2 separate regions of the Homo sapiens genome follow, and region 1 is linked to region 2. Evidence: fine-mapped expression QTL. A gene starts in region 2. The other region holds a variant in brackets. All regions are shown on one strand. Distances are from middle to middle. Region 1 overlaps IL17RA (interleukin 17 receptor A). Region 2 holds the start of IL17RA (interleukin 17 receptor A).

Region 1 (13,660 bases), 32 kb after region 2:
GGTGTACTGGTTCATCACGGGCATCTCCATCCTGCTGGTGGGCTCCGTCATCCTGCTCATCGTCTGCATGACCTGGAGGCTAGCTGGTAAGCGCTGGGGCTCTGGCTGTCCTGGAGTCAGGCTCTAATACCAGCACCACCACTCACTACCAAGGCAAATCGCTTTATTCTCAGAGCCTCAGCTTCTTGCTTGAGAACCACGTCATAAAGCTGTTGTAAGGACTGAGTGAAATAAGACACATGAATTCTTAGCACAGAACCTGGCATGTGCTATTTGCACAGTATCTGTTAGCCACGATTATATTTGTTGTTATCAAATGTAGTATTATTAAAATCAATAGTTTGGAAGGAGCCGGAGTAAAGTTTCCCTGTGTCAGGAATGATCATCCAGGCAGGTGGAGCAGCCTGAACAACCCCATCCTGCAGCCGCCAGACGTGGACGCCTGGGGTCAGGGAGAATAGTGAGGGTCAGCATCGGGTGATAGAGAAGGCTCCGGCTGCCCTGAGCCACAGGGGTGGACCCCAGCCCCACCTCATTAGCCTTGTAGTCACAGGCCAGTTACTTAATACACCATGGATTCACTTTTCTGTAAAATGTACTGATAATGCCTCCCTCTAAGGGTGTGACGAAGGTTAAATGAGTAGCTGAGGAAGGTGCTTGCTGGTGGGGATTAGTACATACCAGTGTCTTCTCCCACCTGCAGCCCTCTGCTGGCCAAGTCCTAAGCCGGGAGAACACAGGCCTTCCGGTTGGGGCTTCAGCCCTTGCCTGCCCCACCATGACCCTAGGCTGCTCCTTCCGTCATCTGGGAAGCTGTTTCCACCCTTCCCTAGGCTCGTCAGGATTAGGTGTTAATCATTATTAATTATTATGTGGTAGAAAGAAAACCAGCCAGGCATGGGAGGACCTATGGGAGGTTCCAATAACATTCAGTAGCATCTCGGCCAGTGCTCCACAGGCGGTGCAGCTCTCTAAAGGTTTGGGGCTGGGCGGCGGCGGCGCTTTTGGTTTCCTTTCTGCTGTTGCGCTTCTGTTTTCCGAAGTGTCCTGCACCACAGGGTGAAGGCAAGAGGAGCCTCGCTGTTATTTGGCTGTCTTGTGACAGTTCTGGGGAAGAGCTGAAAGGGTTAGGATTGAGATTAAGGTTCTAAGTCGTTTGCTCAGTCATCTGTGGATCTCAATCCTCCCAGCTGTCACTAAGGAGTTAACCCCCGCAGAGCAGTTTTTTCATCACATCTCTGAGGGGAACAATTGCTTAAGTATGTGGGTTCCCCTTCCTCACCTCAAAAATACCAGGAGGAAATGTTGCAAGCAGCCTGGTGGGGCTGCTTCTGGAAAGAAGTGTGGTAAGATGCATGTCTTCTGTAAAGACACTTCTGGGGAAGAGCTTTTCCTCATGTGGAGTCAGTTTGGGGTGGCCAAATTTCAGGGAGACAGGGCAGACCAGGACCGTAATGAGGAACCAGAATGGACACCACCCCCTGCCCCCCGGCACTGGGGGTCCCAGCTGGATCAGTGCTACAAAATAACTGTGATCCCAATTGATTATGTACAACGTGCCAGGCACGTCACATACACACACTCATTTAATACCCATTAAACAAGAGCAAATACAGACCCACCTCACAGAGGAAGAAGCTGCATTTCAGAGGCACTAGTAACTGCTCCAGGTCATAGTGCTCGTAGTGGCAGACCCAGGACTCATGCCTGTGCGACCACCTAGCACGGCCTCGCTGCTCAGTCTCGGGGCTGCCCCCTTACCCTTCACCCTTTGTCAGGGATGGGGCAGACACCCTGTGAGCTGGTTTCTATTTCTCTTCCCAAAGAACCACTCCAGTGTATTTCTTTTCCTTTCCAGGGCCTGGAAGTGAAAAATACAGTGATGACACCAAATACACCGGTCAGTATTTCCTGGTTTGCATGTTTGCTTATTTTTAAAGCAGTGGAGGGTTCTCCTGGGATAAGTGCGTGGGTCGCCTCCTGTGCTCTAACTCCCAAGTCCCTTCAGGAGACCCCACCTTAGAAACCCCCTTCCAGTACCCCACTCAGAAGGGCCCCCAATAACAAGGCCTGGGTGCCATTTTTTGAATCACTCAGACAAGGAAAGAAAGGTAAGTATTTTGTGAACAGAGGTCCTCCCTGGAGCAGACCAACAGAGCTTGGTGCCTCTTTTTCTTTTCTTAATTAAAGTATAGGCTAAAGACCAGCTAGGAACGTTGAGAGATTCTTTTTCCCACAAGGCAGCAGACTGATTTTTTTCAGGCAGCCAAAGGTGGAATAGTAACATCTGGGTTTTTCCAACAGGCCTCAGTTGGGTTTCTCAGCTTAGGGAGGGAGCCAAGCTCTGTGTCCTGGTCCAGGCCCCTCCTGGGCTGGCAGGCACAGAGCTGCCCTGGGCCCTGGGGTGAGGGTCAGCATGTGTGGTCTTGTTTCCTTAGATGGCCTGCCTGCGGCTGACCTGATCCCCCCACCGCTGAAGCCCAGGAAGGTCTGGATCATCTACTCAGCCGACCACCCCCTCTACGTGGACGTGGTCCTGAAATTCGCCCAGTTCCTGCTCACCGCCTGCGGCACGGAAGTGGCCCTGGACCTGCTGGAAGAGCAGGCCATCTCGGAGGCAGGAGTCATGACCTGGGTGGGCCGTCAGAAGCAGGAGATGGTGGAGAGCAACTCTAAGATCATCGTCCTGTGCTCCCGCGGCACGCGCGCCAAGTGGCAGGCGCTCCTGGGCCGGGGGGCGCCTGTGCGGCTGCGCTGCGACCACGGAAAGCCCGTGGGGGACCTGTTCACTGCAGCCATGAACATGATCCTCCCGGACTTCAAGAGGCCAGCCTGCTTCGGCACCTACGTAGTCTGCTACTTCAGCGAGGTCAGCTGTGACGGCGACGTCCCCGACCTGTTCGGCGCGGCGCCGCGGTACCCGCTCATGGACAGGTTCGAGGAGGTGTACTTCCGCATCCAGGACCTGGAGATGTTCCAGCCGGGCCGCATGCACCGCGTAGGGGAGCTGTCGGGGGACAACTACCTGCGGAGCCCGGGCGGCAGGCAGCTCCGCGCCGCCCTGGACAGGTTCCGGGACTGGCAGGTCCGCTGTCCCGACTGGTTCGAATGTGAGAACCTCTACTCAGCAGATGACCAGGATGCCCCGTCCCTGGACGAAGAGGTGTTTGAGGAGCCACTGCTGCCTCCGGGAACCGGCATCGTGAAGCGGGCGCCCCTGGTGCGCGAGCCTGGCTCCCAGGCCTGCCTGGCCATAGACCCGCTGGTCGGGGAGGAAGGAGGAGCAGCAGTGGCAAAGCTGGAACCTCACCTGCAGCCCCGGGGTCAGCCAGCGCCGCAGCCCCTCCACACCCTGGTGCTCGCCGCAGAGGAGGGGGCCCTGGTGGCCGCGGTGGAGCCTGGGCCCCTGGCTGACGGTGCCGCAGTCCGGCTGGCACTGGCGGGGGAGGGCGAGGCCTGCCCGCTGCTGGGCAGCCCGGGCGCTGGGCGAAATAGCGTCCTCTTCCTCCCCGTGGACCCCGAGGACTCGCCCCTTGGCAGCAGCACCCCCATGGCGTCTCCTGACCTCCTTCCAGAGGACGTGAGGGAGCACCTCGAAGGCTTGATGCTCTCGCTCTTCGAGCAGAGTCTGAGCTGCCAGGCCCAGGGGGGCTGCAGTAGACCCGCCATGGTCCTCACAGACCCACACACGCCCTACGAGGAGGAGCAGCGGCAGTCAGTGCAGTCTGACCAGGGCTACATCTCCAGGAGCTCCCCGCAGCCCCCCGAGGGACTCACGGAAATGGAGGAAGAGGAGGAAGAGGAGCAGGACCCAGGGAAGCCGGCCCTGCCACTCTCTCC[C/T]GAGGACCTGGAGAGCCTGAGGAGCCTCCAGCGGCAGCTGCTTTTCCGCCAGCTGCAGAAGAACTCGGGCTGGGACACGATGGGGTCAGAGTCAGAGGGGCCCAGTGCATGAGGGCGGCTCCCCAGGGACCGCCCAGATCCCAGCTTTGAGAGAGGAGTGTGTGTGCACGTATTCATCTGTGTGTACATGTCTGCATGTGTATATGTTCGTGTGTGAAATGTAGGCTTTAAAATGTAAATGTCTGGATTTTAATCCCAGGCATCCCTCCTAACTTTTCTTTGTGCAGCGGTCTGGTTATCGTCTATCCCCAGGGGAATCCACACAGCCCGCTCCCAGGAGCTAATGGTAGAGCGTCCTTGAGGCTCCATTATTCGTTCATTCAGCATTTATTGTGCACCTACTATGTGGCGGGCATTTGGGATACCAAGATAAATTGCATGCGGCATGGCCCCAGCCATGAAGGAACTTAACCGCTAGTGCCGAGGACACGTTAAACGAACAGGATGGGCCGGGCACGGTGGCTCACGCCTGTAATCCCAGCACACTGGGAGGCCGAGGCAGGTGGATCACTCTGAGGTCAGGAGTTTGAGCCAGCCTGGCCAACATGGTGAAACCCCATCTCCACTAAAAATAGAAAAATTAGCCGGGCATGGTGACACATGCCTGTAGTCCTAGCTACTTGGGAGGCTGAGGCAGGAGAATTGCTTGAATCTGGGAGGCAGAGGTTGCAGTGAGCCGAGATTGTGCCATTGCACTGCAGCCTGGATGACAGAGCGAGACTCTATCTCAAAAAAAAAAAAAAAAAAAGATGGTCACGCGGGATGTAAACGCTGAATGGGCCAGGTGCAGTGGCTCATGCTTGTAATCCCAGCACTTTGGGAAGGCGAGGCAGGTGGATTGCTTGAGCTCAGGAGTTCAAGACCAGCCTGGGCGACATAGTGAGACCTCATCTCTACCTAAATTTTTTTTTAGTCAGTCATGGTGGCACATGCCTGTAGTCCCAGCTACTCGGGAGGCTGATGCCAGATGATCACTTGAGCCCAGGAGGTAGAGGCTGCAGTGAGCTATAATGGTACCATTGCAATCCAGCCTGGGCAGCAGAGTGAGACCCTGTCTCAAAAAAAATAAAAAAGTAGAAAGATGGAGTGGAAGCCTGCCCAGGGTTGTGAGCATGCACGGGAAAGGCACCCAGGTCAGGGGGGATCCCCGAGGAGATGCCTGAGCTGAAGGATTGTGGTTGGGGAAAGCGTAGTCCCAGCAAGGAAGCAGTTTGTGGGTAAGTGCTGGGAGGTGAGTGGAGTGAGCTTGTCAGGGAGCTGCTGGTGGAGCCTGGAGGGGAAGGAGGGAGGCAGTGAGAGAGATCGGGGTGGGGGGTGGGGGGATGTCGCCAGAGCTCAGGGGTGGGGACAGCCTTGTGCGCATCAGTCCTGAGGCCTGGGGCACCTTTCGTCTGATGAGCCTCTGCATGGAGAGAGGCTGAGGGCTAAACACAGCTGGATGTCACCTGAGTTCATTTATAGGAAGAGAGAAATGTCGAGGTGAAACGTAAAAGCATCTGGCAGGAAGGTGAGTCTGAAGCCCTGCACCCGCGTTCCGACTATCAGTGGGGAGCTGTTAGCACGTAGGATTCTTCAGAGCAGCTGGGCTGGAGCTCCCCTGAGCTCAGGAAGCCCCAGGGTGCAAGGGCAAGGAAATGAGGGGTGGTGGGTCAGTGAAGATCTGGGCAGACCTTGTGTGGGGAAGGGGTGCTGCTGTGACTTCAGGGTCTGAGGTCCAAAGACAGCATTTGAAAAGAGGCTCTGAAGCCAGTGTTTGAAGAATTTGTTCCTGAAGTACCTCCTGGGGGTAGGCTAGAGGCTTCTGGCTTCAGGGTCCTGAAGAACACATTGAGGTGCCGTCTGACACTGGAATAGGGTGCCCTTCATTCCTATGCCTGAGTCCTTAACTATATTTCCAACCTCCAGTGAGGAGGAGAAGATTCGGAAATGTGACAGGAGAGCAAACAGGACAGTTTGCATGTGTGTGTGCGCACACATACATGTGCGTGAAAGATTATCAATAAAAGTGCATAAATTTGTTGATCTGGTAAGAGTTTCTAGCAGGAAGGTCGAGCCACTTACTGTAGGTCAAGAAGTTGCTAGTTGCGGAGTTTTTTCTTGCAGTTAGACTTTACCTAGTGGTAGCAGGGCCACCAAAGCTCTGTGTCCCAGATGGTGTATGGCCCATAATCCACCCAACAGCAGCAAAGGACCAGGCAAAGGAGAACAGGAGCAGAAGCCTCCCAGCCACTAGCCTTTTGGGCTCAGTCTCTCCAATAATCCTGGAGAGGGGCTTCGTTGGGTCTGGACACCTACCATGCATTCTGTGACCTTTCCCTAGCTTCCAATAAATAACTGTTTGACGCCCAGAGTACAGGATACCACAATGCACTCTTCCTGCGTAGAGCACATGTTCCCATCTGCTCCCATTCCTCAGGAACCTTGAATTCTAGCTCTGCTGGCCTTTGAGCCCATGCCAGTAAATGTCCTGATGGGCATTGCCTACTATCTCCAGGGCAGCTGCCTTTGTCCTCCTAACAGCTTTATTGGAGTACAGTTCACTTACCATACAATCCACAATTGACCCTGCACAATTTGATGCCGGTTTAGTATAGTCACAGTTCAGCAGCCATCAGCACAGTCAGTCTTAGAGTTTACTACCCCCAAAAGAAATCCAGCCCCCCTTAGTCACCACCCCAACCTCCCCATCCCTAGGCACCCCTAGGCTACTTTGATCTCTGTAGACTTGCCTCTTCTGGACATGACATAGAGAAAGGAGTCATAAATTCTCCAAGGTGTCTGTTTCTTCTTTAATGTCATTCCCTGTTTCTCCTCACATTCCCTCCCCATTTCCTGGGCCCAGTCTCACACTGGTCCTTGCTTACCCTAAATGCTATTAATTCCATCACTCTGAGTATGGTGTTTGCTGTCCGCTGAATGCCAAGAGCTTCAAGAGTGTGTGTAAATAAAGCCACACCTTTATTTTTGTATTATTCTGAACCATGGCTAATAAATTGTTTCACCAAGAAATGTCTCTCTAAGAACAGGTGCCCTCCACGCTGTGCCCCTCCCACCTCTTCAGCTCGTCTCCTGAGTGTGCAGAGGTGGTTCCGGTTGGGAAAGAAGCAGCGGAGCATCTAACCATGCCTGTGTCCAGGCCGATTATGCACGCAGCCACCAACAAGCTCCCAACTCCCGCGTAGAGTTTCATGACTTTTTCCTGCCTACTATCTTGATCCTAGTTTTTTTTTTGTTTTTTTTTTTTTTAAGGAATAATTACTTTGATTCAAAACCAGTTTCTCTTTTCTGCATAGGAAGGTCCTTGAAGGTGTTTAGGGTCTAAAAAGGGTGGTGTTCGGTCTCTGAAACATCCATTCAGCAGTTTGAGCTGGGATCTCTGAATGCAAGGGTATGATGGATATACTTCTTTCTTGCTTTTGTTGTGTTTTGGTTTTTTGTTTGTTTTTAAGTCAGGGTCTCTCTGTCACCAGGCTGTATTACAGTGGTGCAATCATGGCTCACTGCAGCCTCGACCTCCCAGGCTCAAGCCATCTTTCCACCTCAGCCTGCCAGTGGCTAGAACTACAGGCGTGCACCACTGTGCCCGGCTAATTTGTGTGTATATATTTTGTAGAAATGGGGTTTCACCATGTTGTCCAGGCTGGTCACGAACTCCTGGGCTCAAGCCATCTGCCCGCCTCATCCTCCCAAAGTGCTGGGATTATAGGCCTGAGCCCACCGTGCCTGGCCTTTCCTGTTTATCTTTGAAAATTAAATAGGGCATAAGAGAGAAGAAGATGTACTTACAATGCAGTGGGTGGTTTTAACTCTATAGCCTTTGGGCTCTGTGGTTGGTGCTCCCCTTCCTAAATAAATGAGGTGTATGCAGGGCCCTCTTCTGCCTTAGCGCCCTGCCAGCTGGGACTCCAGCAAGGCCCGGGGCACCTGAGGACAGAGTGAGATGGAGGGCCGCTGCTCCAGCAGCCGGGCCTGCATCCCACAAGTCAACTGTGTCGGACAGAGGATCCTTACAAAGAAGAGGCAGCAGGGTTGGGGGCTGGCCAGCTGCTCGTCCGCCCTAGGTAGCTTGCTCATCTGTAAAGTGGGTGGGGCAGGAGTTCCCACCTCATGGGGTCCTGGCAAGCCTGCAGTATCCCCGAGTGGCACCAGCCTGCTTCTGGGGCAGAGCAGTTTGTGCCCCCTGAGGTACCACTGATCCTCTTTCCCTGCTATTAGGTATTGCTCTCTTCCTCCGGTGTTTGCCTTTTCAGATTATAGAAGTAATATGTGTTCCCATATTTGGCGTCTCTCAGGAGCTCAGGAAGTACTTGGCTGAGTGAACATGTCCATTGTGGAAAAATGGCAACAATATGGATTCCATGGGTATATTTTATAGAAGAATATGAAGAAAAGCAGCTACCCCTAAACCCATTGCACAAGCTGTTCATGTTAATTCTGTACCCGACGCTTTCCCCACGGGGCCTCCCCTCACTCTGAAATGGCATCCAGGTCCATCTTGCCCTCCACCTCTGCATGGCTCTCCATGCCCCATCGCCTCTCCCAGATCCTAGCACTGGGTCCACACTCTCGCCCTGTCCATTTAGGTTGATGAAAGCAGGCAGTCACCCGGGTGGGCCAGTCTTGCCTGTGGGAGGAACATGCAGTCTCCTGTCTCATGGTTTGAAGTGTGCCAGGAAGCCTGGCCCAGCCCACCTCCCCCTGGAGTCCTTCCCAGGAGGAATAACCCCTTAGGTCATTGACTATAAGATGAGTTCGCTCACTGGATCCTTCCTCTCTGATGAGACAGGAAGAAGGTACACAGTGACCAGGTAGGAGGAGGAGAGGGAGTAGAAAGGAGGGATGCGGGTGGCTGGTCCCTGCATTTGCCTGCTTCCCTGCACGGGTGTCCCACTGGCCGCCTCTGCTCACCAGTGTCATGGGATTCTCTCAGAAGATGAAAACAGCCCCTGCTTTTTTGCTAGAATGGCTGAGCTTTCATGGAAAGGAAGCTGGACCCAAGCAACAGCCGACTACCGAAGGTTGCCTGGAGCAGTGCAGATGTGGGAGGAAGAAGGGCCTTGGTGCACACTGGCTTTTCTTCCTGACTGCAATGTGGCATTGTGCCAGCTACCTCCTCTTTCTCGGCCTCAGGAAAATGGAGAGAAAGCAGCCCTGAAGGTGGCTGTGACGAGGGAAGGGGCAGAGGGCCTGACAGTCAACCACGCGCTATATTTTCCTGTTCTTCCTTAGGGCAAGAACTGCATGGCCAGACTCAGGCAAGGCCTAGGTGTGGGCTGGGCATTGCCTACACGTGAAGAGATCACTCCGCGTCCCTACTGCACCTGTCACAAAGTGCCTTCTGATATGCCTGGCAAACCAAAATCGGTGAGCGCCAGCTTGCTTCCCTAGAAGACATTTCTAAATATTCATAACATGCTTGCTCAAATCAATCACCTTATTTTACATCCGCTCCAGGGAGAAATGAAGACATGGTCCTACGTTGTTCTGTAATTATTTTCTATGTAAATTTTGTTCCTTGTTACAATTATATATGTCTTAGGGGAAAGGACCATTTCACATGTGTCACCTCATGTGATTCTCACCACAGCCCTGTGATTGCTCCTGTTTTATAAATAATGACATAGTTCCAGTTGATGGCCAAAGCCACAGCTAACGAGAGGCAGAGAGAGCTCAGGCTCCCAGGAGCTTCCACTCTCAGACCTTGCCTCCCGGGCTGCCCTGAGTGAAACGCCTGCTTAGCATTTGGCACAGCCAGAAGCAGCAAGCTAGGGTCACAACACAGAGAGGGGCTGTGTAATACTGGCTGCCTCTGTGCTAAGAAAAAAAAAAAATCACTGTGTGTTTGTTTATTTTGGTGCAGGCCCAGTGTTCTTGCTTAGACTTAATACTACCCTTCATGTTAAAATAAAACCAAACAAAAACCCATGGCCTTGTTCTTCTTATTCATACGTAAGAATTTGTGCTTCTGGCTGGGGCAAGAGTGATAGAGGAGGGCACAGTATTTAAAAATTAGTTTCTCAAGATGTTCCCCCTTTGGAAAGCTACTCTTTTAGAAAGAAATGGGAAGCCGGGCGTGGTGGCACACTTCTGTAGTCCCAGCTACTTGGGAGGCTGAGGCAGGAGGATTGTTTGAGCCCAGGAGGTTGAGGCTGCAGTGAACTATGATGGCGCCACTGCACTCCAGCCCAGGTGACAGAGTGAGACCCTGTCTCAAAAACAAAGAAAAAGAAAGAAGGAAGGAAAGAAAAGTGAGAGAGAGCCGAGGGTGATGAGAAAAAATCGTTCTCAGGCTGAGTCCATTAGAGCTGAGCTGGCTGTGCCAACAAAGCATGTCAAGACACTCACCAGCTCCAGGCCACAGCTTCACTGCCTCCCTGAAAAACATGCCAACTGCCTAGAAGGGCCAAGGTGTACCCATAATGTTAACACAAACTTATAAAATAATGGCGAATGTCACAGTGACATTTAAGAATTTTGTAAGGAAACCAGGACAGAAAAGATCTTAAAACAAACCACACAGGAAGCTTGTCACAAGTCTCAAGTTTTTTATTTTCAGAACAGAGTCTGGTTTTATTTTTAAAAAGAGAAGGAAAAAAGTGATAAATGCTAGTGAGGTGCCACTTCCCTCCTTCTTCCAGGCTCTAACCGCCAGCTAGCTCTCTTTCACAAAACCCACGGATGCAGAATCAGGACATGTTAAAATGGAACAGTCTTTAGAGAGGGTCTAGTCTTTTTAAAATAAGTAAGGATTTGGGGACTAACAGAGAGGAAGCCCCTGACTTGCTGAATTGTTAGGAGCAGGCGGTTCTCGAGATTCTGAGCCCAGGATCCTTTTCTGTGAACCATGCACGTGCTGGCACTGGCCTCAGGAGACAGTGCCCTGCCTTGGCTGTCAGGTCCACGGAGAAATCTCAGGTTTGCCCCTTCACTAGGGATGCCCTAGAAAGCAAGGGCAAAGGAAGCTTTAGGGGTCATCGTGACTGGGGCAGGGGAAGTGAGTGCAAGGACTCAAGAAAAACACAGCAGAGGAAGGGACTGACCCTCTGAGCACACAGTGGTTGACCCACATGTGTAAAAGAGGGTGACTGGGGCTGAACTGGGGGCCTGATATCTGCCAGAATTGGCCAAGTTGCCATCAGCTTCTTGACATATCCAGGGAAGTGGCAGCTCATTGGAACTTATCACAGCCTCCCACCAAAAACCTAACAAACAGTACAGAGATTTTACAGTCAGGGAGGCCCAGCAGGAGATGGCCATCCAAACAATAGAAGGGGGGCAGATCAGGGGGCCAGCCAGCGGCTGGCCATGGCTCAGACACAATGTCCTTTCACAGTCACTGAGATTAGGTAGCAGAGAAACACAGCAAAGCTGGAGAGAGGACATGGGAACAGCGAGCAGCTGTTGGTACCCACCCAGGGCCCAGGCCCCAGAACCTTGAGTACAATCAAAGGGAGAGGAGAGGAGTCAGTGGGGGCAGGGGAAGAAGGCAGAAAAAAATACCAATTAAGTGTGAAATCCAGCCAGCTATTGGGCCACATAGGGTGAGGGACTGGAAGCACAGATTGTGCATGGAGTGTAAACATTTTCCCCCGCTGTTCCCTGCTCTGAGAGCATGAGGAGGCTCAAGAGAACTCTGGTCAAGCCTTCTGCCCCTCTTATGTCTGTCTACAAGGGTGTCTTCTGCTCCAAGCCCCCAAAACAGTTGTAAGAGGGGGCTTCAAGTGGGAGGCGGGGGCTTGGCCTGGGTGCTGAGTTAACGGCCAGTGACTTGGCACTTCTGACCCTCCCTGTGCACTCTGCAGCTGTGCCAGGCCCTGCCCCACACCCAGCCCAGGCACCCAAGCCCTCCCTCCGGCCTTCTCTGCTGGGGCTTCACACACCCAGTACAGAGCAGGGAATGTTCTGCAAGTGCAGCCTGGCTGGCTTCTCTCCCAGCCACCTTTACAGGGAGCATCAGGACCAGGGCTTTCAAGAGCCACAAACTCAAAAGAATGTGAGAGCTGAAATTACCTTCAACCTTAGAGATCACTCATCTAACTTCTACTTTTTTAATGTGAGAAAACAGGCCCAGGAAATAAAAATATGTCACTCAAAGCCAATGAGTGACAGAATCAGAACTAGAATCCACATCTTCTGGTAACTCGTCTAGAGTTTGTTACACTACATAAAACTTCCCAAACGTAAGAAGGGAGAAGGGGAAACAAAAATTCTTCAAGTTTCACCCCCACCACATCCTGTTGAGGGTGGAGGGAAGTGAGTATTTCCTGGCCTTGTTAGCTGCTGTCCTCCTGCACCCTTAAAATATGTAAAAATACTTATCCTGCCTCAAAGACTGCAAGAGTGACATTCCACACCGACTGTAAGTGCACAGTCCCCGGATGTCTCTTGTCATCACCCTCAATGAGAGGAAGAGGGAAAGTTCTGCAGCCTGCCTTGGCCCTAGTGAGACTCTTAACCAGACCAGAGGTGGGAGGTCACCACCTCACTTTCTGATCTACACTTCCTAGAGGAAGGACAGGTGGGGAATGGGGCTTCCTACTCCCTTGGGCCCATGGGAGGCCCAACTTCACATCCATCCAGGAAACCCACCAAAGCTATTACTCTAAGCCCAGATCCGACCCAGTCGGCACCAAACCACAGGAAGGATAAGAGTTCTAGGTGCAGAGGGAGGAACAGAGAGAGGCCAAGCCAATGGCTGATACTCCGCAGACCCTGTAATAACACTGGCACCAAACCCCAGCTGGAGCCAGTGGCCATGGCAAATGCAACTTCTGAGTATTTTGTCTTCATTTTTTGCAAGCAGCATCAGTGCATGATGCAACAAAAGTTGAAAGCACGGAGGTAGAAATGCTCACTCACCCAAGAAAGGGTGCAGTTTGGTCCTTAGAGAATGGATCCCCTCCTCTCCCTGAGCTGAGAAGAGAGGAGCAGTATTGAGGAAGATCCTGGGTGAGATTCTCCCTTCAAGGGGAGTACCTGGGCAGCTCCCAGGGGCCCAGCTCTTCCTGGGAATTCATGGTCACAAATCCAGGCAGAAAAGAGGAGGGTGGTGATAAGTATGGTGTAGGGGGCAGGGCCTCCCCAGATCTCCTACCCATTGCAAAGGGCCACAGGGTGGACACGAGAAAACAACACTACACACACAGAGACATACACTTTGTATCTATCACCTGGAAGAAATCCAAGAGACACATCAGTGGAAAGTGGGTTCTGGGTCAATTTCAAGGCATGGGACAATGGCCACTAACCACAGCCTAAAAGAGGCTGGCACTTCTAAGCAAGGGAGAAGGTCCAAGGCCCAGCACCCCTCTCCTCCTAATGGATGGGAATTAGAGTGGAGGTGGGCAAAGCAAGAAGCAGAGGTACCAGCCCCTTGGAGGTCAGGATTGGGGTAGGATAGGAGAAGAGAGGAGAGGGTAAGTGCACCTACCTCCCTCACCGTTAACTGCTGGTCTCCCTCCAAGCCGTCCTCACCCCAGGGTGCAGAAGAACACCCTGGCCCTTAGCCCTGAAAAGGGTTACCTCTTCCAAATAGACCCTGATCAAATCTAGGTGACAGAAGGTAGAAGACAAGGGGGTTGGGGACTCTCAACCCAAAAACAAGGACCCGTGCCCTTCACCCTCAATTCTGAGAGGCCACAGCCAGGGTGTTGACATAGCCATGAGCACCCCCCTCGTTCTCCGAGATGCAGTGGCCCAGCTGGGAGCCTCCCTGAGGTGGTGGCGGAGGTGGTGGAGGGGCGGAGGGCGGAGCACCGTA
Region 2 (15,083 bases):
GCTTTTAATTGGAGAATTGAGTCCATTTACATGCAGGGTTATTATTGATATTATTACTACTGCCATTTTGTTGCTTGTTTTCTGATCGTTTTGTAACTCCTTGCTTCCTTTCTTTCTTTCTTCCTATCTTTCTTTAGTCCTGTCTTTCTTTGAGGTTAAGTGATATTCTCTGGTAGTATGTTTTAACTCATTGCTTTTATTTTTAATGAATCTATTTCAGGTTTGTGCATTGTGATTACCATGAGGCTTACCAAAAACATTTTATAGATATAACAGGTTATTTTAAAGAGATAACAGCTTAAAGAAAATAAAAATGAACACGGAAAAAAGAGTTTAACTTTACAATTTAACTCCATCCCCCACATTCTGACTTTATGTTGTCTCAATGTATGTGTATTTCTATAATGTCCATCTCCTAACAGATTGCTGTAGGTATTGTTGTTTTTGATAGATTTGTCTTTTGGGCTGCATACTAGTTATGAGTAGATTGCACATTGAAATTATAGTATTAGAGTATTCTGGGTTTGTTCATGTACTTAATTTTACCAGCAGGTTTCATACCTTTACATATTTTCTTTTTGCATGTTAGTGTTTTTTTTTTCTTTCTTTCTGATTGAAGAATTCTCCTTAGCACTTCTTGTAACACAGGTCTGGTGGTAGTGAACTCTCATCTTTTGTTTGTCCAGAAGAGACTTTATGTCCTCTCCATATTTGAAGGGACACTTTTCCAATACAGTATTCTTAAATGGCAGTTTTTTTCTTTCAGCACTTTGAAAATGCCATCCCATTCCCTTCTGATCTGTATAGTTCCAATTGAGAAATCTGTTGCCAGACAAATTGGAGCTTTTTTATATGTTATTTGCTTCTTTTCTCTTGCTGCTTTTAGAATCCTTTCTTTACCCTTGACCATTGAGCATTTCGTTATTATATGCCTTTTGGTAGTCTTATTTGGGTTGAACCTGTTTGGTGTTCTCTGATCTTCTTGTATGTGGCTATTTGTCTCTTTCTCAAGTTTGGAAAGTTTTTTGAGTGTCCGTGTTTGATTTTGAATAAGCTTTCCACCCTTTGCTCTTGCTCAACTCCCTTTTGAACACCAAGAATTCTTAGATTTGGTCTTTTGAGGTAATTTTCTATATTTAGGAGACAATTTTTATTGCATTTTATTCTTTTTTTGTTTTTGCTCCTCTGTGTATTTTTTAGAAGCCTGTCTTTGAGCTTGCTGGTTTTTTCCCTCTGCTTGATTCATTTCGCTGGTTGAGAGCCTCTAATGATTTTTTTTTTTTTTTTCAGAGACAGAGTCTCACTCTGTCGCCCAGGCTAGAGTGCAGTGGCATGATCTTGACTCACTGCAACCTCCGCCTCCTGGGTTCAAGTAATACGTCTGCCTCAGCCTCCCGAGTAGCTGGGACTACAGGCGCATGCCACCATGCCCAGCTCATTTTTTGTATTTTAGTAGAGACGGGGTTTCACCATGTTGCCCAAGCTGGTCTCGAACTCCTGAGCTCAGGCACCTTGGCCTCCCAAAGTGCTGGGATTACAGGTGTGAGCGACCACGACTGGCCATGAATTTTTTAGTTGAGTGAATTTATTTCTCAGCTCCAAGATTTCTGTTTGATTATTCAAAATTTCAATCTCTGTATTAAATTTCTCTTGTAAATTTCTGAATTACTTTTGTATGTTATCTTGGATATCACTGAGTTTTCTCAAAACAGATATTTTGAATTCTTGGTCAGAGGTTCACAGATTGCTGACTCATTAAGGTCAGTCACTGGTTCCTCACTTTGTCCATTTGGAGTCATGATTCCTTCTTTGCTATTGTTTCCTGTGATGTGAGTCTATGTCTTTGCATTAAAGGATTTGTTATTTATTTCAATCTTCTCTGTCTGGCTTGTTTCAGTTTTTATTTGATATGTTTGCTTGGGGTTTTTATTTTTAATTTACCTGTTGGTTTTATTTATTTATTTATTTATTTTATTTTTCTTTTTTTCCAGCTAGGTCACTGCCTCCTTTTTGACACTAGATGGTGGCATAAGCCCAGGTTTGCCTTGGTTCTGGAAAGCAATTAGTGCCACCCGGCCTGGCGCTGTGGCTCATGCCTGTAATCCTAGCACTTTGGGAGGCTGAGGTGGGCGGATCACGAGGTCAAGGGATCAAGACCATCCTGGCCCACATGGTGAAACCCTGTCTCTACTGAAAATACAAAAATTAGCTGGGCGTGGTGACACGCGCCTGTAGTCCCAGCTACTCGGCAGGCTGAGGCAGGGGAATCGCTTGAACCCGGGAGGCAGAGGTTGCAGTGAGCCAAGATCGTGCCACTGCACTCCAGCCTGGTGACAGGGTGAGACTCCATCTCAAAACAAAAGAGTGCCACCCATCAGGATAAGGGAGGTCTCAAAGGGGACATTTCAGTAGTGTGGGAAGGATGGTTAGGGGTTGTGCCCAGGGGACCTGTGGAACAAACCTACCACATGGTGCTGCTTAACAGCCACGCTGATTTGCTGTCTCCTTTGGCCAAATTAGAGCAGAGTGTCCAGGGCTGGGGATGGTGGTCCTGCCTCCCTACTCTGTCTCTGGCTGTCCTCTGGGATATTTCTTATTCCAGGCACACTTTCTTTCTGTGCCTTTCTGTGGGTTGAGTTTCTGTGGGTTGAGTCAGGGACTCAACCTTTCTGTGGGTTGCTTTCTGTGGGTTGAGTCAGGGACAGGTTTCCTGCCAGTGAACCCACGATGATGGAGAAGCTGGCTGGCCATCTCGATCTCACTTTTTCCAGTGAAGAATGCATGAGTCAGCGAGTTTTCTGCACGCTTGGTGTGGGGCAGATTTGAGGGAGGGGCATGATGGATATAGAAGTCTGAGTCTCAGCCAGGCACAGTGGCTCACACCTGTAATCTCAGCACTTTGGGAGGCCGAGGCAGGCAGATCACCTGAGGTAAGGAGTTCAAGACCAGCCTGGCCAACATGGTGAAATCTGTCTCTACTAAAAATACAAAAATTACCCACGCGTGGTGGCGCACACTTGTAACCCCAGCTACTCAGGAAGCTGAGGCAGGAGAATTGCTTGAACCCGGGAAGTACAGGTTGCAGTGAGCCACTGCACTCCAACCTGGGCAATAGAGCGAGACCCCGTCTTTAAAAAAAATTTTCTTTAAGTCTGATTCTCTTGACAATGTCTCAAAGTTTTTTTCATATGTGGCCCCAGGAACTCTCATCTTCATATTTGAGTTCTGGAACATTGCTGGTGATGATCTTGGTGCTATGTGTTTCTTTTCAGTTTTCTGTTGGGGAAGTAAAGCCAGCTTGCTTCCGCAGCACCATTTTAGAACCCCTAGTAAAATTTTCGATTGAGAAATATTCTGCAAATGTTTTTATATTTTACCTCCTTTTCAGTGATCACCATTCTCTAGCCATGTGATTGACAAGGACTTTCTCATAGTTCTATACCCTTCACCACATCATTCACTCTTCCTCCCGTAACATTATTTCTAGTCAGTCACCTACAACCCTCTCCTCTGTTTCTTCAAATCTCAATGTACCTTTTCTTTTCTTTTCTTTTCTTTTTTCTGAGACGGAATCTCACTCTGTTACCCAGGCTGGAGTGCAGTGGTGTGATCTTGGCTCACTGAAACCTATGCCTCCTGGGTTCAAATGATTCTCCCGCTTCAGCCTCCCGAGTAACTAGGATTACAGGCACCCGCCACCACGCCCGGCTAATTTTTTTGAGATGAAGTCTTGCTGGGTCACCCAGGCTGGAGTGCAGTGGCGCGTTCTCAGCTCACTGCAACTTCTGCATCCCAGGTTCAAGCAATTTTCCTGCCTCAGCCTCCCGACTAGCTGGGATTGCAAGCGCCCGCCACCATGCCACGCGCTCAGCTAATTTTTGTATTTTTAGTAGAGACGGAATTTCATCATGTTGGCCAGGCTGGTCTCAAACTCCTGACTTCCTGATCCGCCCACTTTGGCCTCCCAAAATGCTGGGATTACAGGCGTGAGCCACCATGCCTGGCCAATTTTTACATTTTTAGTAGAGACAGAGTTTCACCATGTTGGCCAGGCTGGTCTCGAACTCCTGACCTCAAGTGATCTGCCCACCTCAGCCTCCCAAAGTGCTGGGATTGCAGGTGTGAGTCACCACACCCCACCAATGTACCTTTTCTTTAAAATATAAATTTAATTGCTATTCCTGCATGTAATTATTCTCAGTCTGGCTTCATGCAACAGGAAGACCCCCTAGCCTGAGAGCTAAAAACTTCTAACTTCTTTACCAAGCACACCATCTGGCTCTCTTTATCCTGGGCTCTGCCACTGACTACCTGTGTGGCATGAGTCACAAAATTTCTCTATCAGAGCCTCAGTGTTGTAGTTTGGTTGTGTAGTGGTGGTGGTTTGGTTTAGTTTTGTTAATGCCAAAACTATTTCAAAAATCTGATGAGACTTATGAACTCTCTTTCCAGAGAAAAGCACACTCACACAAACATTTTTCAAATTATTTCCAAGTGTTTACAAACTTCCTAGAGCCTATCTATGGACTTCAGTTTAACAATCCTTGGACTGGCCTCCCATCCTTTTAATTAAATAGCTCTCTCTGGCTCTAACTCTAATTCCTCTTAGAAATAAAAATAGAAAAGAAACAATTTCTATCTCTGCTAAGAGCTCACCTCTCAGAAAAATGGCGCTGACATCTCTCAGCCACATTCTGAAAATCAGGATTCTGGAAAGTCCTGTGTTCTAAGATAAGTGGTCTAGGCAGGCCGGGCGCGGTGGCTCACGCCTGTAATCCCAGCACTGTGGGAGGCCGAGGCGGGTGGATCAGGAGGTCAGGAGATCGAGACCATCTTGGCTAACACTGTGAAACCCCATCTCTACTAAAAATACAAAAATTAGCCAGGCATGATGGCGTGCGCCTGTAGTCCCAGCTACTCAGGAGGCTGAGGCAGGAGAATTGGTGTGAACAAACTGAGGGCCATTACTTTAATAACTTATTACAACTTGTTAACAGTTTGATTTATTAGCTTTTTCAGGTGTTGTATAGATGCTTAGAAATATTTTTGTATTAAATTTGTAAGTCTAGCAGTCAGCATTTGAAACTTTTAAGAGAAACATGCACATAAAATTTGCGATGTGGTTTGAAATGTCTTAGGAAATGTAATGAATCAAGTTTGAAGTAGTGTTAAGTGTTTAAGGAAGATTTAGTCTCTTACATTTATGAGTTAATAGCACATGAATTAAAGAACAAGTAAAAGTGATTGTTCTTATTTTATACCAATATTACCAGATTAATAAATGGACTGGAGCTGGGCATGGTGGCTCATGCCTGTAATCCCAGTACTTTGGGAAGCTGAGGTGGGAGGATCACTTGAGCCCAGGAGTTTGAGGTCAGCCTGGGCAACATAGTGAGACCCTGTCTCTACAAAAAAAATATAAAATTAGCCAGGCATGGTGGTGCACACCTGGAGTTCCAGCTACTGTGGAGGCTGAGGCTAGAGGATCACTTGAGCCCAGGAGGTTGAGGCTGCAGTGAGTCGTGATTGTGCCACTACACTCCAGCCTGCATAACAGAGCTAGAACCTGTTTCAAATAAATAAGTAAGCAACTAAATAAATAAATAAACTAGCAAGCTTTGTAAGTTGAATTTAAAAGCTTGAAGACTGGATATGGTGGCTAGTGCCTGTAATCCCAGGTATCCAGGAGGCTGAGGCAAGAGGGTAACTTGAGGTCATAGTTTGAGATCAGCTGACCGGCCTGGGCAACATAGTGAGACACTGTCTCTAAAAAAAAAAAAAAAAAAAACAAAGGCCGGGTGCGGTGGCTCACGCCTGTAATCCCAGCACTTTGGGAGGCCGAGGTGGGTGAATCATGAGATAAGGAGTTCAAGACCAGCCTGGCCAACATGGTGAAGCCCCCTCTCTACTAAAAATACAAAAAATTAGCCAGGCGTGGTGGGGGGCACCTGAATCCCAGCTACTCGGGAGACTGAGGCAGGAGAATCGCTTGAACCTGGGAGGTGGAGGTTGCAGTGAGCCAAGATCACGCCAGTGCACTCCAGCCTGGGCGACAGAGTGAAACTCCATCTCAAAAAAATAATAATAATAAATAATGCTTGAGAAGAACTACAATTTAAGTGTTGTAACTCAATGTAAGAATAAAAATAAAAGTTGTCATAAAAAAAATTTCTGAGGCCAGGCGTGAGAGGATCTCTTGACCCCAGGGGTTTGAGGCCAGCCTGGGAAACACAGATATTACATATTACAAGTAATAAAAAAAAAATTAGGCATAGTGGCGCATACCTGTGGTCCCACATACTTGGGAGACTGAGGCAGAAGGATCACCTGAGCCCAGGAGGTTAAGACTGCAGTGAGCTGTGATGGAGCCACCGTACTCCAGCCTGGGTGACAGAGTGAGACTCTGTCTGGGGAAAAAAAAAAAAAAAGGAAAAAAATTCCGCCCACAAAAACCCCTCTTGAACTTAGTAAATCTCAGTTGACACGTTTATTCAACAGTTTATTCAAAACACGTTTATTGATCATCTCCTGTGAGACAGAGGCTGTTCTAAGCACTGGGAATATGGTTGTCTTAGTCTGTTTTCTGTTGCTATAAGAGAATACCATAGATTGCGTAATTTATAAAGAAAAAAAATGTTATTTAGCTCACAATTCTAGAGGCCAGGAAGTCTAAGAGCATGGCACCAGCATTTGGTGAGGGCCTCTTTGCTGTGTCAAAACACGGCAGAGGCGATCATAGGGAGAGAGGGTAAGAGTGTGCAGGTCAGCTCAGGTCTGTTACTCTTTTTTTTTTGAGACAGGATTTCACTCCCATCTCCCAGGCTGGAGTGCAGTGGCACAATGTCAGCAAACCACAACCTCTGCCTCCCTCCCAGGCTCAAGCCTCAGCCTCTCGAGCAGCTAGGACTACAGGCACGTCTGGCTAATTTTTGTATTTTGGGTAGAGACAGGTTTTCACCATGTTGCCCAGGCTGGTCTATGAACTCCTGAGCTCGAGTGATCTGCCTGCCTCGGCCTCCCAAAGTGCTGGGATTACAGGCATGAGCTACCGTGCCCTGCCTATCTTCCTCTTCATATAAAGACACCAGTCCCATTATGGAGGCCCCCACCTTGATGATCTCATTCAAATTACTTCCCAAAGGCCTCACCTCCAATCAACATATGAATTTGGGGATTAAGTTTGTAACATGTGAAATTTGGGGGATACATTCAAAGAATAGCAATGGTGAAAAATGATTTGCAGTCTCTTCTTTCACTGAGATTATATACTAGCAGAGGACACAGAGGAAAAGTCAAATAAACAACATCATTTCAGAGAATGGACACAGAAAGCTCAGTCAATCAGAGACTAGCTCCTAACCCCATCTTTCTCATGGCAAAGGATATTCTGTCCCCTCTCTCACTGTCCTGGAATGAAATCCGTGGCCATTTCCCTTTTCTCATAGCCAAAGACACCACCAAGTTCTCCAATCCCTGACTCTGATTCCTGACATCAATCTATTGCTCCTTGTATAATCAGTCAATGAATCAAAAAAAATTTTTTTGGATATCTACTATCTCCTCAGGATGAGGCTCTGTCAGGGGAAAAGTAAGAACCCAGAGAACAAGCAATAAGCAAAGCAGCCTAATGTTGACATGCGCTTGGCAAGTATTCACAGACCACCTCACACCCAGCCAAGCACTGCAGGTGAGAGCAACACAGGAGTGAGGAAGCCGGGGTACTTACCATCAGTGAGGACCAATCTTACAGATAGGGAAAAACTATATTTCATCCAGTTGAAGACACCCATTTTCTACATTTTAAAATTCCTAAATTAGGCTTTATCTTTCAATGATTTTGGATCATTGGATGAAATACAGTAACAACAGCACAAAGCAGCATTGTGCCCTGAGAGGTGTGCAGAGCCTATAGCAATTAGAACAGTGGTCCAAGGTCAGGCTACACATTAGATGTATCTGGGAAACTCAAAAATACTTATGCCCAGACCCCATCGCAGACCAACAGAATCAGTGTGGAAGGGTGTGGCTGTACACTGGTATTTCAAAAAGCACCTCATGGGATTCTAATACGTAGGCAGAGTTGAGAACCAGGATAGCAATTTCAAATGAGAGTACACATTACCCTGAGGTTACATGAAGACTTTCCAAGGGGCACGCCTTGGAAAGTTTAGGGCACACATCAGTAAACTAGGGCCTATGGCCCAAATCTGTTCTACTGCCTGTTTTTGTACCCTCCGGGGAGCTAAGTTGGTTTTTACAGTTTCAAATGGTCAGGGGAAAAAATCAAAAGGGAAATAATATGTTTGGACAAATGAAAATTATATGAAATTTAAATGTAAGTGTCCATAAATAAAGTTTTATTAGAACACAGACACACTCCTTTGTTTACATATTGTCAATGGCTTCTACAAGGGCAGAGTTGAATAGTTGGGACAGAACTATATGGCTGGCAAAGCCTGAAGTATTTACTATCTGATACTTTCCAGAAAAAAAAAACTTGCTGGCCCTGGCTTGAAGGGAATAGATTTGAAGGGAATGGACCTCCAGAATCTCAACATCCCCATGTCCTCTTCCAGACACTTGCCTGCCAGGAAAGGTACCAGCTGTGAAGATGTCAGGTGTGGGTGGAGGCTCCCTTCCTTCCCCACACTTTTGTTTCCTACTTGTCCTTCTCCCACTTTCAAAAGAAAGGTAGGCCTCTCATCAGTCCTGGGTATTAAGTTTCTAACATGTGAAATTTGGGGGACACATTTTAGAATGTGTAAAAAAGCCCCTGGGGGCCCAGAGCAGTGGCTCACCCCTGTAATCCCAGCACTTTAGGAGGTTGAGGAGGGCAGATCACAAGGTCAGGAGTTCGAGACCAGCCTGGCCAACATGGTGAAACCCCATCTCTACTAAACATACAAAAATTAGCTGGGCGTGGTGGCATGTGCCTGTAATCCCAGCTATTCAGGAGGCTGAGGCAGGAGAATTGCTTGAACCTGGGAGGCGGAGGTTGCCACTACACTCCAGCCTGGGCGACAGAGCAAGACTCCATCTCAGAAAAAAAATAAATAAAATAAAATAAAATTTAAAAAGCCCCTGGGCACTAGACATAGCAACAGTACCAGATACCATTGTGTAATAGGACTCTGATCACAGGATAGGTATATACACATATCGATATACAGAGATAGATAGATAGATAGATAGATAGACATCTATTTTTTTGCAAGTGAGGTAGGTTCCAAATATTGCCTTACTAAAATTGAAGGAGGACCCAATCAAGTTGTCAGTTGCCAAATCAAAAATATTTGACTGGGCACAGTGGTGCAAACCTGTAATCCCAGCTACTTGGGAGGCTGAGATGAGAGGACCTCTTGAGCCCTGGAGTTTGAGTCTAGCCTGGGCCGTTTAGTGAGACCCTATTTAAAAAAAAAAAAAGGTGACAAGATGGCTATGTGATCTTTGCATATGACTGAAAACGGGTTCAAAGAATTGATGAGACAAATATAATTATTTATGTAAGCAATTTTTTAAGGCTTACATCTAAAATATTTTTAGCCTGGGGTGGTAGCTCGTGCCTGTAATCCTAGTACTTTGGGAAGCTGAGGCAGGAGGATGACTTGAGCCCAGGAATTCAAGACCAGCCTGGGTAACATAGTGAGACCCTGTCTCAATGTTTTAAAAAGAAGAAAAATGGTGGCTCACGCCTGTAATCCTAGCACTTTGGGAGGCCGAGGCGGGCGGATCATGAGGTCAGGAGATCAAGACCATCCTGGCTAACACGGTGAAACCCCGTCTCTACTAAAAATACAAAAAATTAGCCGGGCGTGGTGGCAGGTGCCTGTAGTCCCAGCTACTCGGGAGGCTGAGGCAGGAGAATGGACTGAACCCGGGAGGCGGAGCTTGCAGTGAGCCGAGATCACGCCACTGCACTCCGGCCTGGATGACAGAGCAAGACTCCATCTCAAAAAGAAAAAAAAAAAAAGAAGAAAAATAAAATATTTCTTAAATGCTGAATGTTGCTTTGTTCTATGAATAAGCAATATTTGTTCACAGATACATCAACTAATTAGGAATAAAATGAATTTCAAGTAATTCATGTTTAATTACTTATTAACATGTATTATATTTACATTATTTTTTATCAATTATGTACTAATAATGGCAATGATGAAATGAAGATCTCAGTGTCTTGCACTGGGCAGAGGCCTTTCTCATTCTCTGCCACTTGGGCCCCAGCATGGCTTCCCTAAGAGCTAGGAGCTCAGAGGGAGGGGCTGGGCAAGACAGAAGTCAGGATCTTTTTGTAACTTAATCTTGTAAGTGACATCCCATCATTTTTGTCTTCTTCTATTCATATTCTATTGTTAGAACCAAGCCTCTGGGTCCATCCCACACTCCGCGAGGAGGATTCAGAAGGTCGTGACTCCCAGGGGGTGGGATCCTAGAACACATCTTAGAAGCTGCCTACGACAACCGCTGATTTTTAAGTAACAGTTACATCCTCTACATCTATTTAGACTTAGGATGGAGAATTTTAGATGTCATCTTTAAAATGCATGAGAGGATGCAGTTTTCCAAAATTCTTTTAGAAACAGACAATTTGAAGGCCACTGAGCTTCAGGCTTCATTCAGCTGGGTCGTGTCTGCGGGCGGGGCTCATAGAGATGTCGCTGGGGGTCAGCGGGTGCTTCGGGCAGCGAAAAAACCCACCTCTCGAGGGCAGTGGAAAATACAGGGAAAAGCCACTTGAGTGTAGACTCCGTGCGTGTCAAGGCCAGGCAGAGGCGCACTTGATAGGCAAGGAAAAGCGGACGGTGGTGGTCTTGGGAGGAAGAGAGGAGAGGCGAATGGGCAGGAGCGTGTGGATGCACTAGGGCAGGACGGGCTCGAAGCAGGAACCTAGGATAGAGGCAGCGCGGGCCGGCTTGGGAGGGTCCTCCAGGGTCCGGAGAGGAGAGGACGCAGGCTGCACGCGTGCTAAGAAGGAGACTCATGAAATGTGTAATTCGCTGGCGACAGCTTCCGCGGCCGTGGAGTGAGCCTCTGGGAAGTAACGACTCTCTTAGGTGCGGCTGGGACACAGTCTCACAGACCAGGTAAGTTGCCTGCCCTCCAGGAACTCAAGTGTCCCCGAGTCCGAGCCAGGAGGCTGGAAGTGACTGCTGTCCCATCCTCCCTGGAGCCCGGAGCTGTCCTTGTCTTGAGAAAGAGAAAGCAAAGCCAAGGAAAGCAGAGCGAGCAGAACCAGGCAAAGGGGTGGGGACAATAAAATGGGATATGGCCCGCGCTTCCATCTACTCAGGAGGCAGAGGCAGGAGGATCGCTTGAGCCCGGGAGGCCGAAGCTGCAGTGAGCTGCGGTTGCACCACTGCACTCCAGCCTGGGAGACAGAGGGAGACCCTGTCTAAAAATAAAGTAAAATAAAAAACAAAAATAAAAGGGACAGAGACTAAGAAAACGGACTTCCTGAAATCCCAAGTTGGGATTTCACGTCCAGTGACCCACAAGAGAAGCAAGAAGTCTGAACAGGGCCAAGAATCAAGTGAGTGGGGGCGGAGGATTAAAATCGACAGTTGCTGCGGCACGGCCAGGGTGGAGGGTGCATGTGGGGCAGGCGAGGCTCCAGCTGGAGTTGACGCTAGCCCGACGCGGGTGCAACTGGAGGCGCGACGGGCCAGGCCCAGGAGCAGCGGGAGGAGCGCACCTGGGGCGCGCGGGCGGAGGAGGGCCGGGGAGGGACGCCGGAAGGACTGGGTAGGGACGCCCGGAGGACTGAGCGTAGGGCCGAGAGGAGGGGCGCAAGGAGGAACGGGGGGAGGGCCCTGTCTCACCCTAAACCCCTCCCCGTCCCAGACTAAACTCCTCCCCTCGGCCCGGCCCGCCCCTGGGCCCGGGCTGGAAGCCGGAAGCGAGCAAAGTGGAGCCGACTCGAACTCCACCGCGGAAAAGAAAGCCTCAGAACGTTCGTTCGCTGCGTCCCCAGCCGGGGCCGAGCCCTCCGCGACGCCAGCCGGGCCATGGGGGCCGCACGCAGCCCGCCGTCCGCTGTCCCGGGGCCCCTGCTGGGGCTGCTCCTGCTGCTCCTGGGCGTGCTGGCCCCGGGTGGCGCCTCCCTGCGACTCCTGGACCACCGGGCGCTGGTCTGCTCCCAGCCGGTGAGACTCGACGTGGGGAGCGGTAGCCGCCAGGATGCTGCGGACGCGGGGCAAGGTCGCGGAGGGCCGGACGGTCGGGACTACGCGCCCGGGCTGGGGAGGCAGGAAGTCCGCGCCGCGGGCTTAGAGGGGCTCAGAGCCTTGGGCACAGATATCGCGGCGCCTGGGGAGGACCCTCGGAGCGGTGGGAGTTGCGGTGTGGAATACGGGGGGGGTGGGTGGCACATCGCGCGGCGCGTGTTGCACAACCTGGCCCGCCGTCGTGACTGGAGGCGGGAGTGACACCTCCGCCCGGGCCGCGGAGTTCGGGGAAGGAGGGCGCGGCGCTGGGCCAGGCCGGAGGGGCGGCCAGGGCTGATAGAAAGGGGCTGTGGAGAAGGGGCCCGGGGAGGAGCCAGGACGGGTCTGGACCCAGCTCCACGCCTTGCGCCCCTCACGTACCCCGGCGGGGCACGGTCGGCCCTCGGGAGGCCCATCGCGCCCTCGGGAGCTTCCCTCAAGCCGTGCCCTTCATGCCGCCGACGGAGCCGGGCGAGCCCACGTCGTCCGTGCGGAAGGTGGAGTCCCTCACCCGCGGCCCCCAGAGGGACCCCGCTGTCGTAGAGCCACGCGGGGGCCGGAGCGCTGAGACGCGGCACCATGTTTCGGGGAGAGCTCTGCCGAGGGCGGCTGAGGGCCACCTCCCCAGAGGCGCGAAGCCCTGAGGATGGGCAGATGGTTCTTAAGACGGCGCCCTTCCCGCCACTCCCACCCCCGACTACCACCACCTGGGTCTGGGAACCCGGTGAGAGCGCAGTCGGAGGGTCGAACGTTTGTAGCTGTCAAGTCGTAGCCCCGCTGCGCCCACAGGAAGTGACCCACCCGCCTGCCGGGTAGTGGCCTTTCTGTGAGCCAGGACCATCTTAAGGAAAAAAACAAAAAAAGAGCAAAACGCCGTGCCCCTCCACAATATACTCTCCTCTTCCCCGCATCCCCGAGGGGATCTTTCCTCCCCTCCACCTCCACCTCCACCTCCACCGCTGACCCCAAGGAATAATGCTCAGTATCTGAGTCAGAGGATGTAAAACAAAGGGATATTTCTCCTTATGTAGTTTTATGGAGGATTTACCGAAAGAAGGTGGAGGGTGAGTGACTATGTCGCAGAAAAAAAAAAAAAGATGTTTTTATCGTGAATGATGTTGAGAAATGTCCTGTGACTTCCACTATTGGGCAAAGCAGGTCCCTCTGCCCTGCTAGTCCCTCCTGCAGGCTGTGTATGAAGCGTTCTGATATGGAGGGTTGGTGCGCCTGGGTTGACAGCCATTGGTCAGGTGCCTGCAGAGTACAGGGCGCCATACTGGGAACTGGAACTATAAATAAATACTCTGGGGACCCTAATATCCAGAGACCTAACCCATCTACGGGAGGAACAAGGCTTGAAGTTAGGGAACTGTCTAGCAAAGCTGCTTGCACAACTGCTAAGTGTACGGAATTCCAGGAAAAAGAAAAATTGCTTCCAGTTGGGGTGTCCTTCATGGAAAAGGCATTTGGGCAGCCCTGTGGGGGTAGCAGGAGCATTCCAGGTGGTGGAAAGGGCCTGAGCCAAGGTCCTTAAGTGGGACAGGGTACGGTGTGTGGCCGGAATGGAGGGTCTGTGTAATAGGACAGTGAGAAAAGATGCCAGAAGCGGGGATGGGACTCTGCTGTGCGTGGCGTGGGAGCCAAGCTCTGACTTTCACTGCACAGTGAAGCAACTGTAAGTCAGGAGCAGAAGCACGGCCTGGCTCCAGGGAGGGCTGAAGAGAGACACTTGCTGTTCATATTTGTCTGCAGTCTCTCGTTCTCTTCCTTCCTCTCTCTCTCTTCTGTATACACCTGCCTCACAGACAGCTCTTCTCCAGAGATAGACAGCTCTGGGCTCCATTGACTAGTTCTTTTAAAAAGAAAGAAAACACATCCTTCAAATTTCTGTCCCTCACTGGTGTTTTAGTGGATGCAATGTGGTATAGTGAGGGGAGGGAAGGCCACAGAGGTGGCCAGAGGACCTGGATTTGCAGGCAGCATCGCACTTACTGTCTCTGCAGTCGGGCTTTGAGGCTGCCTGGGCCTGGGTTCCCTCATTTCCACAAAGGCAGGACTGGGTGAGCCTTCTCAAAGTAAGTCCATGCCACCTTCCAGAATGTAAGTGTCTGTCCAAAGCCCAGTTCGATTTAGCCTTCCATAACTATCCTCAGACAGGGAGGAGGCTTCTGCACACCTGGCCTGTTCCTAGCTCAGTGCTGGAGCACAGGATGCGGGGGCTATTTGATACATATGTGTTGACTGAACAAAAGAATGCATGAATGAAGGAAAGAACGGTCAGCTCTGCTTGGAAGGTAGTGGCAAGCTGAGACCAACCATAGCAATGGTTCCAGATGCTTGGGGTTAGCACCTCAAAACCCAGATGACTGATTTCCCCACAGAAATCATTACACGAGAAACCATCAATAATTGCATTTCCCTGGGAGTTTCCTTTTGGTTAGCCGTTCTCGCTGCCTAGGCTTCATGCAGGTTTCCCATGACCGCCAGCCTGGAGGAATGCCCATAGGAAAGACAGCAGCAACTTAAGAGTTGGTCAGGGTAAATGTTAACACGTAATTTCATAGACAGGATGTGTATTTCATTACAGAGTCTTTTTTCCTGAGCGTTTGCGGTTTTGACTTGTGGTTGTAGAACAGCTGCTCAGTTTAACCCCTTTATCTTTTGCTTGCCAGAAGCCACTTTCATCATGCCACTCTTCCAGAGGCTACAAAGTTGTGTTCTTTGTGCCAGGCACTGTGCCGGTGGCTCACAAGTATTCCTTCATCCCATACTCAACGACAGCTTACAAGGTTGGCAGGATGAACCTGCTTTTGAGAGGCTGGGTTATTGGCCCAAGGTCGCACAGCTAATGAGTGCTAAGGTGAGATTGAAAGCAGGCTG

Evidence for each region.
Region 1: its variant is fine-mapped to the expression of IL17RA in whole blood (TOPMed, PIP 0.91).

The regions. Positions count from the first base shown.
Region 1 is chr22:17,105,869-17,119,528 of GRCh38, forward strand. IL17RA (interleukin 17 receptor A) reads left to right here. Exons shown (of 13, transcript NM_014339.7): 11 at 1-86; 12 at 1,859-1,900; 13 at 2,439-9,825. The coding sequence ends at 3,952. TMEM121B (transmembrane protein 121B) reads right to left here. Exons shown (of 1, transcript NM_031890.4): 1 at 10,429-13,660. The coding sequence ends at 13,523. Among named protein-coding and RNA genes, the nearest start is that of TMEM121B, 8.7 kb to the right of the region's middle. RefSeq lists a silencer at 1-142 and enhancers at 912-1,131, 1,089-2,288. The variant C/T (reference allele first, on the strand shown) is at 3,841.
Region 2 is chr22:17,073,087-17,088,169 of GRCh38, forward strand. It overlaps IL17RA (interleukin 17 receptor A), which reads left to right and starts at 11,914. Exons shown (of 13, transcript NM_014339.7): 1 at 11,914-12,143. The coding sequence starts at 12,006. RefSeq lists silencers at 2,027-2,086, 11,697-11,916, 11,937-12,056, 12,307-12,406, 12,447-12,696 and enhancers at 3,247-3,416, 10,974-11,143.